Linked DNA regions of Homo sapiens: region 2 is linked to region 1. The links come from fine-mapping of genetic effects on gene expression. Tissue or cell type: fibroblasts. Region 1 holds a variant in brackets; the other region holds the start of a gene. All regions are shown on one strand. Distances are from middle to middle.

The links. PIP is the estimated chance that this variant, and not a neighbour inherited with it, causes the effect.
Region 2: PDP2 starts here. The variant in region 1 is fine-mapped to the expression of PDP2 in fibroblasts (GTEx, PIP 0.91).

What each region holds. Positions count from the first base shown.
Region 1 is chr16:66,776,620-66,784,619 of GRCh38, reverse strand. TERB1 (telomere repeat binding bouquet formation protein 1) reads left to right here. Exons shown (of 19, transcript NM_001136505.2): 10 at 5,605-5,757; 11 at 7,286-7,417. Among named protein-coding and RNA genes, the nearest start is that of TERB1, 21 kb to the left of the region's middle. The variant C/T (reference allele first, on the strand shown) is at 4,825.
Region 2 is chr16:66,876,349-66,884,487 of GRCh38, reverse strand. PDP2 (pyruvate dehydrogenase phosphatase catalytic subunit 2) reads right to left here and starts at 3,973. Exons shown (of 2, transcript NM_020786.4): 1 at 3,848-3,973; 2 at 1-257. The coding sequence starts at 203. RefSeq lists a silencer at 3,520-3,699 and enhancers at 3,159-3,931, 4,180-4,259, 6,410-6,459.

The sequences.
Region 1 (8,000 bases):
AGCTCACACCTGTAATCCCAGCACTTTGGGAGTCCGAGGTGGAGGATCACTTGAGGTGAGGAGTTCCAGACCAGCCTGGCCAATGTGACGAAACCTTGTCTCTACTAAAAATACAAAAAAATTAGCCTGGTGTGGTGGTGTGCACATGTAATCCCGGCTACTCGGGTGGCTGAGGCAGGAGAATCACTTGAACCTGGGAGGCAGGGCTTGCAGTGAGCCAAGATCATACCACTGCACTCCAGCTTGAGCAACAGAGACAGATTCTGTCTCAAAAAAAAAACACAAAAAACCCAAAAAAACCATATTAGCTTCTACCTAAGAAATTAGCCAACCAAGTAAGTTAAAATAAGCATAACAAAGGAAATAATGAAGAGATTAGAAATCGTGAAATAGAGAAAAATAATTGAAACATGAGCTAATTCTTTGAAAAAATCAATAAAAGTGATCCTCTAGCCAGACTGATCACAAAGTAATGAGAGAAAGCTCAGATTACCTGTGCCAGGAATGAAAGGTGACATCACTATAGATCTTAACAGATATTAAAAGAGTAATAAAAGAATAGTAGAAACAGCTTTATGTCATGACATTTAACAACTTAGATGAGTTGGACAGATTCTTTGAAAGATACAAACTACCAAACAAAGCTCACCCAAGAAGAAATAGTAACCTGAATATTCCTATATCTGTTAAAGAAGTCAAATTTGTAGTTTAAAACCTTAACACAAGCTGGGCACGGTGGCGCATGCCTGTAGTCCCAGCTATTGGGAGACTAAGGTGGGAGGATCACTTGAGTCTAGAAGTTCAAGGGTATAGTGTGCTATTATCATACCTGAGAATAGCCACTGCAGCCTGGGCAACATAGCAAGAACCCACTTCTAAACAACAACAACAACAACAACAAAACGCAAAACAAAACCTTAGCTTAGGAAATTCCAGGCCTTAATGGTTACATTGGCGAATTCTGCTAAACATTTCAGGAAACAAACAAATAACTTCACATACATTATTCCAGGAAATAGAAGTGAGAGAAACACTTCCCAACATATAAGGCCAGCATTACACCGATATCAGAACCCAGAAACAACATTACGAGAAACTGTTGGCTAATAGCTCTATGAACATAGATGTAAAAATCCTTAACAAAATATTAACAAATCTAATTTAGCAATATATAGAAAAGATAATATGTTATGACCAAGTGGCGTGTATCCCAGGAATGCAAGACTGGTTTAACATTAGAAAATTCATCATATTAACAGTCTAGAAAAGAAGAACAATATGATAATTTCAATAGATGCAGGAAAAGCATTTGACATAATTCAACCTACATCTGTAAACTCATGGTAAACTAGGAACAGAAGGAAACTTCCTTAATGTGATAAACGACCTCTACAAAATACTACAAGTAACACACTTAACGGTGAAAGACTTAATGTTTTCCCCTTGAGACTGGGAAAAAGACAAGAGACTAGGTGTAGTGCCTTATGCCTATAATCCCAGCACTTTGGGAGGCTGAGGCAGGAGGACCACTTGAATCTAGGAGTTCAAGACCAGCCTGGGCAACATAGAAAGACCCTGTATCTACAGAAAAATTTAAAAACTAGCCAGGTGTAATGGTTCACACCTGTAGTCTGAGCTACTTGGGAGGATTGCTTGAGCCTGGGAGGTCAAGGCTGCAGTGAGTTATGATTGTGCTATGGCACTCCAGCCTGGGCAACAGGGAGATCCTGTAACACCGCCCCAGCCACACACACACAGAGTAACAAAAATAAAAAAGATATATAATACTCTGGATTATAAGACTCAACACTGTAAGAACGTCACTTTCAAATTCATCTCTAGACTCATGGAATTCCCAAGCAAAATCCTAGCAGATTTTTCTCTAGAAATTAACAAGCTGCTTCTAAAACTTACATGGAATGCAAAGGGGCTAGGATAATTGAAACTTTTGGGGAAAAAAGTATAAAACCGTAGGACTGTGTTGCCTGATTTTAATACTTATACAGAAATCAAGAAAGCGTGGCTTTGGTGTAGGTATAGACTTACAGATTCTTTTTTTTTTTTTTTTTTGAGACAGAATTTCACTCTAGTTGCCCAGGCTGGCGTGCATGGTACAGTCTCGACTCACTACAACCTCCACCTCCCAGGCTCAAGTGATTCTCCTGTCTCAGCCTCCTGAGTAGCTGGGATTACGGGTGCCCGCCACCAAGCCTGGCTAATTTTTGTATTTTTAGTAGAGATGGGGTTTCACCATGTTGGCCAGGCTGGTCTTGAACTCCTAATCTCAAGTGATCCTCCCGCCTTGGCCTCCCAAAGTGCTGGGATTACAGGCATGAGCCACCGCACCTGGCCTTGTAGACTTACAGATTAAGGAAACAAAAGTGAGAGCCCAGAAATAGACTCATACATATATTGTTGTTGATTGTCTACAAAAATGCCATTGCAATTCTGTGGAGGAAAAGATATTTTCAACAAATAATGCTAGAAAAAGTGGGTATCTATATGCAAAATATGAATCTGAACCCTTATACAGTATACAAAAACTAACTTGAAATGGTTCATAGACTTAAATAAGTATAAGAGTGAAAAATATAAAACGTTAACAAAAGCAGAAGATTCTCACACCTTGGGGGTAGGCAAAGGTTTCTAAGGACACAAAAAGCATAAATAACTAAAGAAAAAATGATAAATTGGACTCCATTGAAATAATTTTGCTCTTCGGAAGAGCTTGCTATGAGGATGAAAGGTAAGCTAGACTGAGAGAAAATATTTAAGAAACATTTATCTGATTAAGAATTTGGGCCCAGCACGGTGGCTCACCCCTGTAATGCCAGCACTTTGGGAGGCCGAGACAGGCGGATCACGAGGTCAGGAGATTGAGACTATCCTGGCTAACACGGTGAAACCCCGTCTCTCCTAAAAATACAAAAAAATTAGCCGGGCGTGGTGGTGGGCGCCTGTAGTCCCAGCTACTCAAGAGGCTGAGGCAGGAGAATGGCATGAACCCAGGAGGTGGAGCTTGCAGTGAGCCAAGATTGCGCCACTGCACTCCAGCCTGGGCTACAGAGAGAGACTCTGTCTCAAAAAAAAAAAAAAAAAAGAATTTGTACCCAGAAACTTGTAAACAGCTCTTATAAATCAGTAAGAAGACAAAAGCAACCTGATGATTAAAAGATTAAAAAAAATGGGCAAAAGATTTGAACAGATACTTCGCCAAAGAAGATATGAATATTAAATAAGCACTTGAAAAGATGTTTAAGATTGGCTGGGCATGGTGGCTTATGCCTGTAATCCCAGTGCTTTGGAAGGCCAAGGAGGGAGAATCGCTTGAGCCCAGGAGTTTGAGACCAGACTGGGCAACGTAGTGAGACCTTGTCTCTACAAGAAAATTCTAAAAATTAGCCAAATATGGTGGCATGCACCTGTTTTAGTCCTAGTTACTCAGGAAACTGAGGCAAGAGAATCACTTGAGTCCAGGAGTTCAAGCTTACAGTAAGCCACGATCACGCTACTGCACTCCAGCCTGGGTGACAGAGCCAGAACAAGACTTTGTCTCAGGAAAAAAATGCTCAAGAAATAATTAGTTATCAGAGAAATCCAAATTAAAATCCCATGGAGATACTACTACACACCACTAGCATGTTAAAAAGTGGTCATGTTAAATATTGGCAAGGATGTGGAACAACTAGAACTTTCACACATTGCTGATGTATATCTATATTCAAGTGTTTGAAACGAATACTCATATGTCACATGCAAAGGATGTATCTCTAGAATTCAAAAAAAATTGGAATCTATTTCCGTGATACCCTAACAGTCCCTTTATCTCTAAAAGCCAACTTTAATGAGTGATAGTTATAGGACGTCATTACCCTCAGTAAACTACAGATCAGAGGAAATCTGAAATATTCAGTGTACAATAAATGTGGTCTAGGATGTTCTTCTGCTTATATGCCTGAGTTTTTGTCACTTAGGCTATAACTAAGAATCTGTGGTAACACACTGCCATTTTCATCAATGCATTAACAAGTGCTTTTTTTTTTTTTGAGCTAGAGTCTCACTCACTCTGTCACCCCAGCTAGAGTACAGTGGCACAATCATGGGTCACTGCAGCCTCAAACTTCTAGGCCTAAGTGATCCCCCTGCCTTAGCCTCCTGAGGTGCTGGGACTACAGGCACACACCACTGAGCCTGGCTAATTTTCAATTTTTTTTTTTTATTTTGTAGAGATGGGGTCTCACTATGTTGCCCAGGCTGATATTGAACTTCTGAATTCAAGCAATCCTCCTGCCTCAGCCTCTCAAAAATGCTAGGATTACAGACATGAGCTACTACCACACCCAGCCTCTTTTTTGAAGATTTTTAAAAAATGAAAATACTTTCTAGGAAAGAAGTCTATTTTGGAGCCACCATAATATTGAAAATGTTTGCCTGCCCTTAAATAATGTTTCTGGGCTGGGCGCCATGGCTCACGCCTGTAATCCCAACACCTTGGGAGGCCGAGGCAGGCAGGTTGCTTTAGTTCAGGAGTTTGAGACCAGCCTGGGGAACATGGTCAAACCCTGTCTCTACCAAAAATACAAAAATTTCTAGCTAGGCATGGTGGTGCACGCCTGTAGTCATTAAAGGCATGAGCCATGGTGCCCGGCCCAGAATTATTTTCCACTAGGGAACAAAAGACTTCAGACTTAAAGAAATAGATACCGGTCATTGAATCTTTGCTTGGAATAGTTACGACTCTCAGGGATCTGTTATAATTTTATGCTCCAAGAAGTAAAATAATTAGGTGTAAATATGATGGATGAGATGTATGCTCTTTTAGAA[C/T]GGTTAAATTACTTTGCATCTTGAGGAGTCAATCTGAGGAATTAGTTATGTTGGATTGCAGAAAATAGGCAGCTTGCTAATTACCAAGATAAATGAATGAATATATTCTTTATAACTCTATTGAAAGACTTGTTTAATAATGTTGAGGGTTAGGTGTTTTTTTTGTTTTTTTCTTTTGTTTTTGTTTGTTTGTTTTTTGAGACAGAGTCTTACTCTGTCACCCAGGCTGGAGTACAGTAGTGTGAGCTCAGCTCATTGCAACCTCTGCCTCCCAGGTTCAAGTGGTCCTCCTGCCTCAGCCACCTGAGTAACTGAGATTATAGGCATGCACCACCACACCCAGCTTATTATTTTTATTTTTAGTAGAGATGGGGTTTCAGCATGTTGGCCAGGCTGGTCTTGAACTCCTGACTCAAGCAATCTGCCTATCTCAGCCTCCCAAAGTGCTGGGATTACAGGCATGAGCCACCATGCTCGGCCTAAAGGACAGCTTAATAATGCCATTCTTACAAAATAGAGCAGTTCTTACTAAATGAAACAAAAAAGATTTCTAGTACACAAGAAATACTGTAGTTTTACTGTGTCAAAGTAAGATACATAATAAGTAATCTATTTTATGATTATATGCACAGGTAAAGATTGGATTTTTAGTTCTTTAATTTTGGGATTTTTAGAAAGTATTTGAAAAGGTCAATGTTATATTTAATGCAGATTTATTGAATAAAACCATTCAGCTGTCTTGTTTGAAATATTAATAGTTTTGCTACTTTATTCTTTAAGCATATGTTCAGAAATACTTCGTATCTGTGGGCGGACTGGATGTATTGTCTCAAGTTCTCATGCAGCTGGAATCTGATTCACATGAGACTCTTTCCAGTGCTAAACTTGCAGTGGTTGTGACGAAGACTGTGGATGCATGCATTGCTGATAATCGTGAGTGACAGTGCTTACTAGTTTTTTTGAAATTGAATTTTGTTTGAATATAGCATGAAGAGTGTTGAAATAGTAGATTGAATAGTAACATGGTTTAGACTAAGTTTCTCACAGGTGGAAGGAAGTATTAGAAAGTATCCAACATGGCTGGACACAGTAGCTCATGCCTGTAATCCCAGCACTTTGGGAGGCCAAGGCGGGCAGATCACCTGAGGTCAGGAGTTCAAGACCAGCCTGGCCAACATGGTGAAACCTAATCTCTACTAAAAATACAAAAATTAGCCAAACGTGGTGGCGGGTGCCTGTAATTCCAGCTACTCAGGAGGCCAAGACAAGAGAATCGCTTGAACCTGGGAGGTGGAGGTTGCAGTGAGGGAGCTGAGATCATGCCACTGCACTCCAGCCTGGGTGACAAGTACAAAACTCCATCTGGAAAAAAAGGCAGCATTAAATTAAAAATTTCAGGCTGTGTGTGGTGGCTCACACCTGTAATCCCAGCACTTTGGAAGGCCAAGATGGGAGGATTGCTTGAGGCCAGGAGTTTGAGACCAGCTTGGTCAACATATCGAGACTCCATCTCTCAAAAAAAAAAAAATTTAAAATTTTCAGATGAGAAACCAAGGGATATTTTTGAGATTAAGAATGGAAAACCCAATTTATGTAAAGAATACATCTCTTTCTGCTAAGTATGAGGTCAGATTTACCCAACACAGCATTACTAGTGAGTGGCAGAACCAGACTTGAACTCATGGCTGCTGCTTCTCACATGCGCAAACACTGAAGAGTAAGAAACTCTATTATTATTCACAAACAACTAGGGAGCAAAAAATAGATGGTTTTTTAAAAAGTGGTTATTGAGGACCTGCTATGTGTGGAGCTTTACAAGTACAAAAATGATTAAGATGTAGTCCCTTCAGGAATTCACAACTTTTTTGTTGATATTAGTATTGTTAGACTCTGGGTGAACTCTGTTAAAAGCCACATTTGGAGAAGTATAGCTTAAAATGGTGGTCTTTTTGACTTTTGTCACATCTCAGCATAGCTTTGCATATGCTTCATTGCATCAGTAAGTCAGTAGAACTGTGGTCAGTTAATAGTGTATTTTAAATGACAGCAGGAACTGATTATGTAGGAAAGTCTTTACTATCCAATCTAGATAAGAAGAGGTATGTAAGGGGAGAGTAAGCATACTCAGCTTTTAGGAAGTTAGTGTTACTTCATCTTCACAGCATTCTGCAGAACAATTAAGAAAAAAATTCTTCAAAAAATTTGCTTTAGTAATATGTCTTTAGTATGGGAAGAAAGAGTAATGAGGGTTATAGTAATAGGCCGCCATCTTATTACAATGAATTTATATTTTATTTATATTCACACATACACATATTTATTAGATGTTATGATATGTGTATATTTAATTTTATATAGATATATAACATTCTGCCTGAATAAACTCTGAAAAATACATAGTATATATACATTTATAAGTTTTAAATTTGTACTATCTTTTTTTCCTATTTTATACTAATAGCTACTTTTGGGATAGTACTCTCCAAGTACCACATTGTTTCTAAACTTCTGGCATTACTGCTTCATGAAAGTCTGGATTCAGGAGAAAAATTTAGCATCATGCTTACTCTTGGTCATTGCACAGAGGATTGTGGTAAGTATTGGATTTATTGAGTGTGGTTATTAAAATAGTAAAGCGGAAATATACTTCTGTTTTTTTTTTTCTTCCAGTTATGTGAAGGTCTTAAAAGTATTGCTTTTCTCCTAGTCATTCAGACCTCAAACTAGTCATTTCAGCTCCTAATTCTCCTTCACTCATTGTATTAAGTCAGTCATTAAGACCTGTAGTTCTACTTCTGTTTACCCCTCTTGATCCCTTTCTGTCCAGTTCCAATGTTGCTCTTCCAAAGTAGGCCCTTAAACCCACAACATCTTTCACCAATATTATTGCAGTGGTTTTCTCACTGCAGCACAGGGAGAAAGCTCCTTCCCTTCTACCTTCATTTTTCAGCCCACTCTGCACATTGCTGCACAAATCTGATTCTGTTCTCCTTGTTAAAACTTTCAAAGATTCTTTCTTTTTCTACCTATTACTGTCTCCTCTCTCTTTTCTCTTTCTTCTCCCCCTTTTATTTTCCTCCTCCTCTCTACTTTCCTCCCATTCTCCCTCTGTTCAATCTACTCCTTCTTACCAATTCTCTCCACTTTCCTCTCTACCCCTCTCTCTTCTAATCTCT
Region 2 (8,139 bases), 100 kb before region 1:
GTTGATGTGTGTCTGTAGGCTTTGCACAGAGTAAAGCCACCACATGGGGAACTGTTTAGGGTGGGTGGCACCCGGGAAAAGAGCCTCCATTTTAATTTATTCCTATTTGAGACATACCTGGAGTATAAGCGTCTACCCCCTTGCAATGTGGCAATGCTGTTCCTTGTAGAATTTAAGATCCAGTAGGACACAGTACTTGACATTCTGAAACTATACCAGCAAATGTGTTCCTTCAGCAAAAAAGGATATTTTTAAACCTAAAAATTAAAAAGTTGAAGTTTCAAATTTAATTTCTTTTTTTTTTTTTTTTTTTTGAGACGTAGTCTCGCTCTGCCGCCCAGGCTGGAGTGCAGTGGTGTGATCTCTGCTCACTGCAAGCTCCGCCTCCCAGGTTCATGCCATTCTCCTACCTCAGACTCTGGAGTAGCTGGGACTACAGGCGCCCGCCACCACACCTGGCCAATTTTTTGTATGTTTAGTAGAGACAGGGTTTCACCATGTTAGCCAGGATGGTCTCGATCTCCTGACCTTGTGATCCACCTGCCTCGGCCTCCCAAAGTGCTGGGATTACAGGCGTGAGCCAAAGCACCCAGCCACAAATTTAATTTCTTAAAAATACTGACTTCTGAAAACATTTGCTAATATCCTGAACAAAAATGACTTAGAATAAACTATTTAAAATACACTAAACTCACTCTCACCAGCAGACTATAAGTGTTCATTTAAATATCTGCTTCGGGGGCCAGGCCTGGTGGCTCATGCCTGTAATCCTAGCACTTTGGGAGGCCAAGGTGGGTGGATAGCTTGAGCCCAGGAGTTCGAGACTAGCCTGGGCAACATGGTGAAACCCTGTCTCTCCAAAAAAATAAAAAAAATAAAAAAATTGCCAGGCATGGTGGTGTGTATCTATAGTCACAGCTACTTGGGAGGCTGAGGTAGGAGAATCATCTGAGCCTGGTAAGTTGAGGCTGCAGAAAGCAGTGATTGTGCCACTGCAGTCTAGCCTGGGCCTCACTAGAGAGGGAGTGAGACCCTGTCTCAAAGAAAACAAAAACAGGCCTGACGCGGTGGCTCACGCCTGTAATCCCAGCACTTTGGGAGGCCGAGGTGGGCTGATCACGAGTTCAGGAGATCGAGACCATCCTGGCTAACACAGTGAAACCCCGTCTCTACTAAAAATACAAAAATTTAGCTGGGTGCAGTGATGGGCGCCTGTAGTCCCAGCTACTCAGGAGGCTGAGGCAGGAGAATGGCGTGAACCCAGGAGGCAGAGTTTGCAGTGAGCCAAGATTGCACCACTGCACTCCAGCCTGGGCGAGAGCGAAACTCCGTCTCAAAAATAAATAAATAAATAAATAATCTGCTTCGGGCATAGTGGCTCATACCTGTAACCACTCCAAAGGCTGAGGCGGGAGGATCACTTGAGCCTAGGAGTTCCAAGACCAGCCTGGGCAACATAAGGAGACCTGGTTTCTACAAAAAATTTTTTTACAAATTAGTTGGGCATGGTGGCGCACACCTATAGCCCCATTCACTTGTAAGGCTGAGGTGAGAGGATTGCTTAAGCCCTGGAGGTCAAGACTGCAATGAGCTGTGCTCCTGCCACTGCACTCCAGCCTGGGCAACAGAGCAAGACCCTGTCTCAAAAACTAAATTTTATATACATGTATATTTCCCCACTAGTCTATAAACTCCATGACTCAAGCAACTATGGCTGCCTTACTCACCAACAGCTTTCCAGTGCCTGGCCCTGTACCCGGCACACACTAAGTCCTCAAATACTGGCTAAATATGACATTTTCAGAGGCCCAATAGCACACTAGCTGTGATACTATCTTGTGTAGCATCAGACACACTGCTGATGAGGTAACACTCCAGTTATCTATTGGTGGAATGGGAATATTAGTCTTAGAAGGTTTTGTGAGAATTTAATAAAATATGACGCTTCTGCTAAAAAAAAAAAAGTAGCTATTATTTTCATCATTAGGTATATACCCCTCTAAGTCATTCTGGGTATTTTTTGTTTGGTTTTTTTTTGTTTTGTTTTGTTTTTGAGATGGAGCCTGGCTCTGTCCCCAGGCTAGAGTGCAATGGTAAGATCGTGGCTCACTGCAGCCTTGCCCTTCTGGCCTCAAGGGATCCTCCTGCCTCAGCCTCCTACATAGCTGGGACTACAGGCATGTGCCGCCAGGCCCAGCTAATAGACAGGGTCTCCCCGTGTTTTCCAGGCTGGTCTCAAACTCCTAGGCTCAAGCGATCTTCCGCCCTTGGCCTCCCAAAGTGCTGAGATTACAGGTGGGAGCTACTGCGCACAGTCATTCTGTACGTATTTTTGTAGAGTTGTAACCCCAACTTTGAATCTGGCTTTCCTGATAAGAGTATTTTTTCACATCTGATGGCTACATTTTGACATAAATAATCACAACTTACTTAACTATTCTTTACGGCTGGAAATTTAGAGGTTGTTTCTACTACTTGCTATTTATTAATATAAAATACCAAACTGGACTGGGCACAGTGGCTCATGCCTATAATCTCAGCATTTTGGGAGGCCAAGGCAAGAGGATCACTTGAGGCTAGGGAGTTTAAGACCACCCTGGGTGATACAGCAAGTGCCCCATCTCTACAAAAATTTTTAGATTAGCTGGGCATGGTGGTAAGTGCCTGTAGTCCCAGCTACTCAAGAGGCTGAGGTGGGAGGATCGCTTGAGCCCAAGATTTCAAGACTGCAGTGAGCTATGATCACACCACTGCACTCCAGCCTGGGCGACAGAGCCAGATCTGTCTCTTTAAAAACAACAACAACAACAAAACCCCACCAAACTGTACTGCTTTATGCAGTAACCTTTTCTCTACTTAGGTTTTATCCTAGTTATTTCCCAAACAAGGAGTCAGTAGGTCCAAGGGTGTAGACTCATTGCCAAACTGATTTCCAAAAGCTTCACATCTGCCTCCTCAAGGGGGTGACGAGTTTCCTAGTCCCTTCACTAGCCCTGGTGGTACTTTTCCTTGGAATATAATAAATTAAATTAAATTAAATTAAATTAAATTAAATTAAAAAAAAAAAAACAGAACAAAACCTTGACCCATTATAATGAGCTTTTCATGTATGAATCCTGCCCTCGGGATCTCGAGATCATTTGTCGGGACCTCAAGAGTTCCCAGGACTGAGGACCGTCCCTTCACTCCCCCACCCCCTGCCAGCCCACCCCGCAGAAGTCGGTGCGGGGGCGGTCTGTCCGGGAGCAGAGGGCGCCTGACGCTCCGGCCCTGCAGTCAAGGCAGGCAGCGGTGCAGGGTGATACACCGCAGCCAGGACGCAAACCCTCTTGCATCCTTAAAGAAAACAGACAGGTCCCAAGTTCAAATCTCTGACTTCAGCCTCATCGCTAAGTGCATGGACTCCGGAGCCCACCAAAACCGATCTCCCTAGAACCCCGGCACGGCCGTACCCCAGCTGGGTGCCCCCGGGCGACCCGCTTGGTGCCTCTGAGCCCCGGCTTGCCAGCCTGTAAAACAGGGGCGTGCAGTCGGGACACAGAGCTCCAAGGGGTGCTCGATAGGCCAGAGCAGCTAGTGGGGTGCCCCGGTAGGCAGCCAAGGGTCCTCGGCGAGCCCGCGGGCCCACGTGGCGCGCGCACGTGAGTGGGGTGACCGTGGTCGTAGGCCCAGCTGGTCCCTCTCCGCCGCGGACCCGCCCCCTCACCTCAGCTCTCCCTCCGCCCAGTCACCTGAGCCGGTGCCGCAGGCCGGGAGGGTCAGGCGCCGGCGAGGCCTGGCGGGGAAAGAGGTGTCCACATCCCCCGCTCGTTACCTTCCCTACCTCGGACCCTCGCCCGCTTCTCACCAGCTGGCGAGGCCACAGCCGCCCGCTCCGTCCGGTCAGTTCAGCGCCTGCGCACAGTGCCACAACTGCGGCCACCAGGTCCTCACCTCACCCAGGCGGTCCCTAGTCAGGACCCAGCTCCAGAAGGAAGCGCCCTCCCGCCAGCCCTGGTTGGCTCAATTGCGGAGGCGGGCCCTTGATGGACAGAGGTATTGCCCAATGGCTAAAGAGGATGAGAGGCGGGCAGAAAGGCGGGACCCGGGAGGGGGCAACACCGCCCCTTACCCCCTGCCTGGGTGCTGAAAGTGTTCGAGCGCGGGGCCACAGGACCAGGCAGTCACGTGCCTGAGATCGCCAGCTACGTGGCCGCTACACTCTGCATACCCCGAACCCAGCGGCCTCCCCAATTCCTCACCGTTGTTAGAACACCTCACTGCTTCCTCTCCACTTCGGTGTCGACCACTCCAGAACCCTCTCTTGAGCGCCACACCCTGATGTCCAGCCACCTGGACACCTGCCTCTGGAGGCCCCCAGGCGCCTCAAACATAACTTACCCCAAACTCAGCTTTCTGCCAAACTTGCTTTTTCTCTTCTCTCCTAACCCAGTAATGGCCCCACCATCTGCCCAGAGACCCAAGCCAAAACCCTGGGAGGCATCTTGACTCCTTCCTCTCCCTCACCCTCTCTTTCCAGTTATCTAATGCTGTAAATCCTATCTCCTAAATCTCTCTCCACTCATCCATCCGGCGACGCAGCCACCCTATTCCAAGCCTCTCACTTGATTTTACGGTTTTCCCTCCTCCACCTTTGACTTGGTCCTAACCACAGAGCAGAGCAGCCAGAATGACGCCCCTCCCACCTTTTCTCGTGGTTGGTGGGTAGAGACAAGGTCTTTCTATGTTGCCCAGGCTGGTCTCAAACTGCCGGGCTCAAGCAATCCTCCCACCTCAGCCTCCCCAAAGTGCTGGGATTACAGACGTGAGCCATCACGCCTGGCAGAATGACACTTCTAAAACTCAAATTCCAAGGCCGAGTGCGGTGGCTCCTGCCTGTAATCCCAGCACTTTGGGAGGCCGAGGCGGGGGGATCTCCTGAGGTCAGGAGTTTGAGACCAGCCTGGCCAACATCACGAAACCGTCTCTACTAAAAATACAAAAATTAGCTGGGAGTGGTGGTGCGCGCCTGTAGTCCCAGCTACCTGGGAGGCTGAGGCATGAGAATCATTTGAACCAGGGAGGTGGAAGTTGCACTGAGGTGAGATCATGCCACTGCACGCCAGCCTGGGAGACAGAGTGAGAGTCTGTCTCAAAAAAAACAAAAACAGAAACAAAAACAAACCAAAAAAACCCTCAAATTCCTGCCCTAAAGTCTTTTTTTTTTTTTTTTTTTTTTTTTTTTGAGACGGAGTCTCGCTCTGTCGCCCAGGCTGGAGTGCAGTGGCGGGATCTCGGCTCACTGCAAGCTCCGCCTCCCGGGTTCACGCCATTCCCCTGCCTCAGCCTCCCAAGTAGCTGGGACTACAGGCGCCCGCCACTACGCCCGGCTAATTTTTTGTATTTTTAGTAGAGACGGGGTTTCACCGTTTTAGCCGGGATGGTCTCGATCTCCTGACCTCGTGATCCGCCCGCCTCCGCCTCCCAAAGTGCTGGGATTACAGGCGTGAGCCACCGCGCCCGGCCTCCTGCCCTAAAGTCTTTAGTGGTTTCCCACAAACCATTAAGCTTTGAACTGACCATTATATTGGCCTGCTACTGACAATTAACTCAGCACGGCTGGCGGCTGGTAGGTTGAGAGAGACAGCGAACCCCGACACCAGATAATCCCTCCGTCCCTTCTGGTCCTAACATTGTGGCATTCCAGTGATGACCTGCTTCCTTATAAATTATTTTCACAGAACTCTTGTAACTATGGTAAGTCAGATGGAGTCCTTCCCTGGAGACAGAGAAAAATGGGAGACAACCAGAAAAAGCCACTTGGAGCCCTGAGAGTGTGGTTTTCCAGAAGGAAGACACCCTGGCTTACCTGGGCAGCCTGGCCAGCCTCCTGGACCCAAGGACGTGGTCACAATAAAACTGCTCATGTCAGACTTGCCCTTGTATATTTATAGTTCCACTCACCCTTAGCCCTTTCCAGAAGTTCAAAGTCAGGACTGGCAATATCTCTCTTCCTGCATATTAAGAGGACTGTTTCAGACCCAAACTAAAAAAAAGTCTAAGGGTTTCTAATAAATGAGTGCAAGAGAATGCAAAAGCACACTTCTTCCCTCCCCCCAGCAGACAGGTCATATAGGGTCACAACGGGTTACCCTTCCGGACAGAGGCAGCAGTGTTTAATTATTCAATCTGCAGGTGTTATGGGTGCCCACAATGTGTCAGGCCCTGGGCTGACTGCTGAGACACACAGATGGCGGCCCCCGCCACTTTCCTGAGAAAAATTACATCATTCCACCAAGCCTGAAACCACTGAGTTTTTCTAAGTTACCACACACACCCACTTCCAAAGTAAAAATGCACCCTGGAGGATTTTATGTGCATTGGAACTTTCATTTCAAGGCTATAACCAGTTCAGTCACCCTATATAGGATGGCCAGCCGAAGTCCCTCACCGGATCTCTCAAGGCTTCCTTGTCCCAAGGTCTTATAAGCAAATACGATGGAAAAGGATTACTTCTCTCTCCTTCGAGAAAGGGAAAGCATAGCTCGATTGGCAGGTTTTTTTTGTTTTTGTTTTTGTTTTTGTTTTGATATGGAGTCTCACTCTGTCACCCAGTCTGGAGGGCAATGGTGTGGTCTCGGCTCACTGCAACCTCCGCCTCCCGGGTTCAAGCGATTCTCCCGGCTCAGCCTCTCAAGTAGCTGGGACCACAGGCATGTGCCATCATACCCGGCTAATTTCTGTATTTTTAGTAGAGAGGGGGTTTCACTATGTTGGCCAGGTTGGTCTCAAACTCCTGACCTTGTGATCTGCCTGCCTTGGCCTCCCAAAGTGCTGGGATTACAGGCGTGAGCCACTGTGCCCAGCTGTTCAATTGGCATTTTTAGAGAAAAGATGTAAAAATATTCAGCCTCACTCAAAACCAAAGAAATGGCCAGGCACAGTGGCTCATGCCTGTAATCCCAACAATTTGGGAGGCCGAGGTAGGTAGATCACTTGAGCTCAGGAGTTCGAGACCAGCCTGGGCAACATGGTGAAACCCCCCCATCTCTACAAAAAATACAAAAATTAGGCTGGGGGCGGTGGCTCACGCCTGTAATCCCAGCACTTTGGGAGGCCAAGGTGGGCAGATCACTTGAGGTCGGGAGTTTGAGACCAGCCTGGCCAACATAGTGAAACCCTGTCTCTAATAAAAATACAAAAAATTAGCCAGGTGTAGTAGTTTGTGTCTGTAATCCCAGCTACAGGAGGCTGAGGCAGGAGAAGTGCTTGAACCTGGTAGGCAGAGGTTGCACTCCAGCCTGGGTGACAGAGTGAGACTCTGTCTCAAACAAACAAACAAACAAACAAACAAAACAAAAATTAGCTAGGCGTGGTGGTATGCATCTGTAGTCCCAGCTACTCAGGAGACTGAGGTGGGAGGATGGGAGGATGGCTTGAGCCTGGGAGGCAGAGGTTGCAGTGAGCCAAGATTGTGCCACTACACTCCACCTTGGGCAAAAGAGCCAGACCCTGTCTCAAAGTAATATTAATAATAATAATAAATAAAAGAAAAAGAAATGCTAATTAAATGAACCATTAATTTTTGTCAGTCAACCTGGTAAATATTAAAACAGGGTTTAAATACATAACATTGGCAAGAGAGCATTGCCATCTTAGCAGGGAGTGTGATATGGTTTGGCTCTTTGTCCCCACCCAAATCTCATTTCAAATTGTAATTCCCACTTGTCAAGGGAGGGATCTGGTGGGAGGTGATTGGATCATAAGGGCTGTTCCCTCATGCTGTTCTCATAATAGTGAGTGAGTTCCCACGAGATCTGATTTTGTTTTTTTTTTTTAACAGAGTCTCGCTCTGTTGCCCAGGCTGGAGTGCAGTGGCGCGATCTCAGCTCACTGCAAGCCCCGCCTCCCGGGTTCACGCCATTCTCCTGCCCAAGCCTCCCAAGTAGCTGGGACTACAGGTGCCCGCTACCATTCTCGGCTAATTTTTTGTATTTTTAGTAGAAACAGGATTTCACTGTGTTAGCCAGGATGGTCTGGATCTCCTGACCTCGTGGAGATCTGATTGTTTATAACAGACAGTTTCCCCTGTGCTCTTGCTTGCCTGCCGCCATTTAAAACGTGTCTTGCTTCCCCTTTGTCTTCTGCCATGATTGTAAG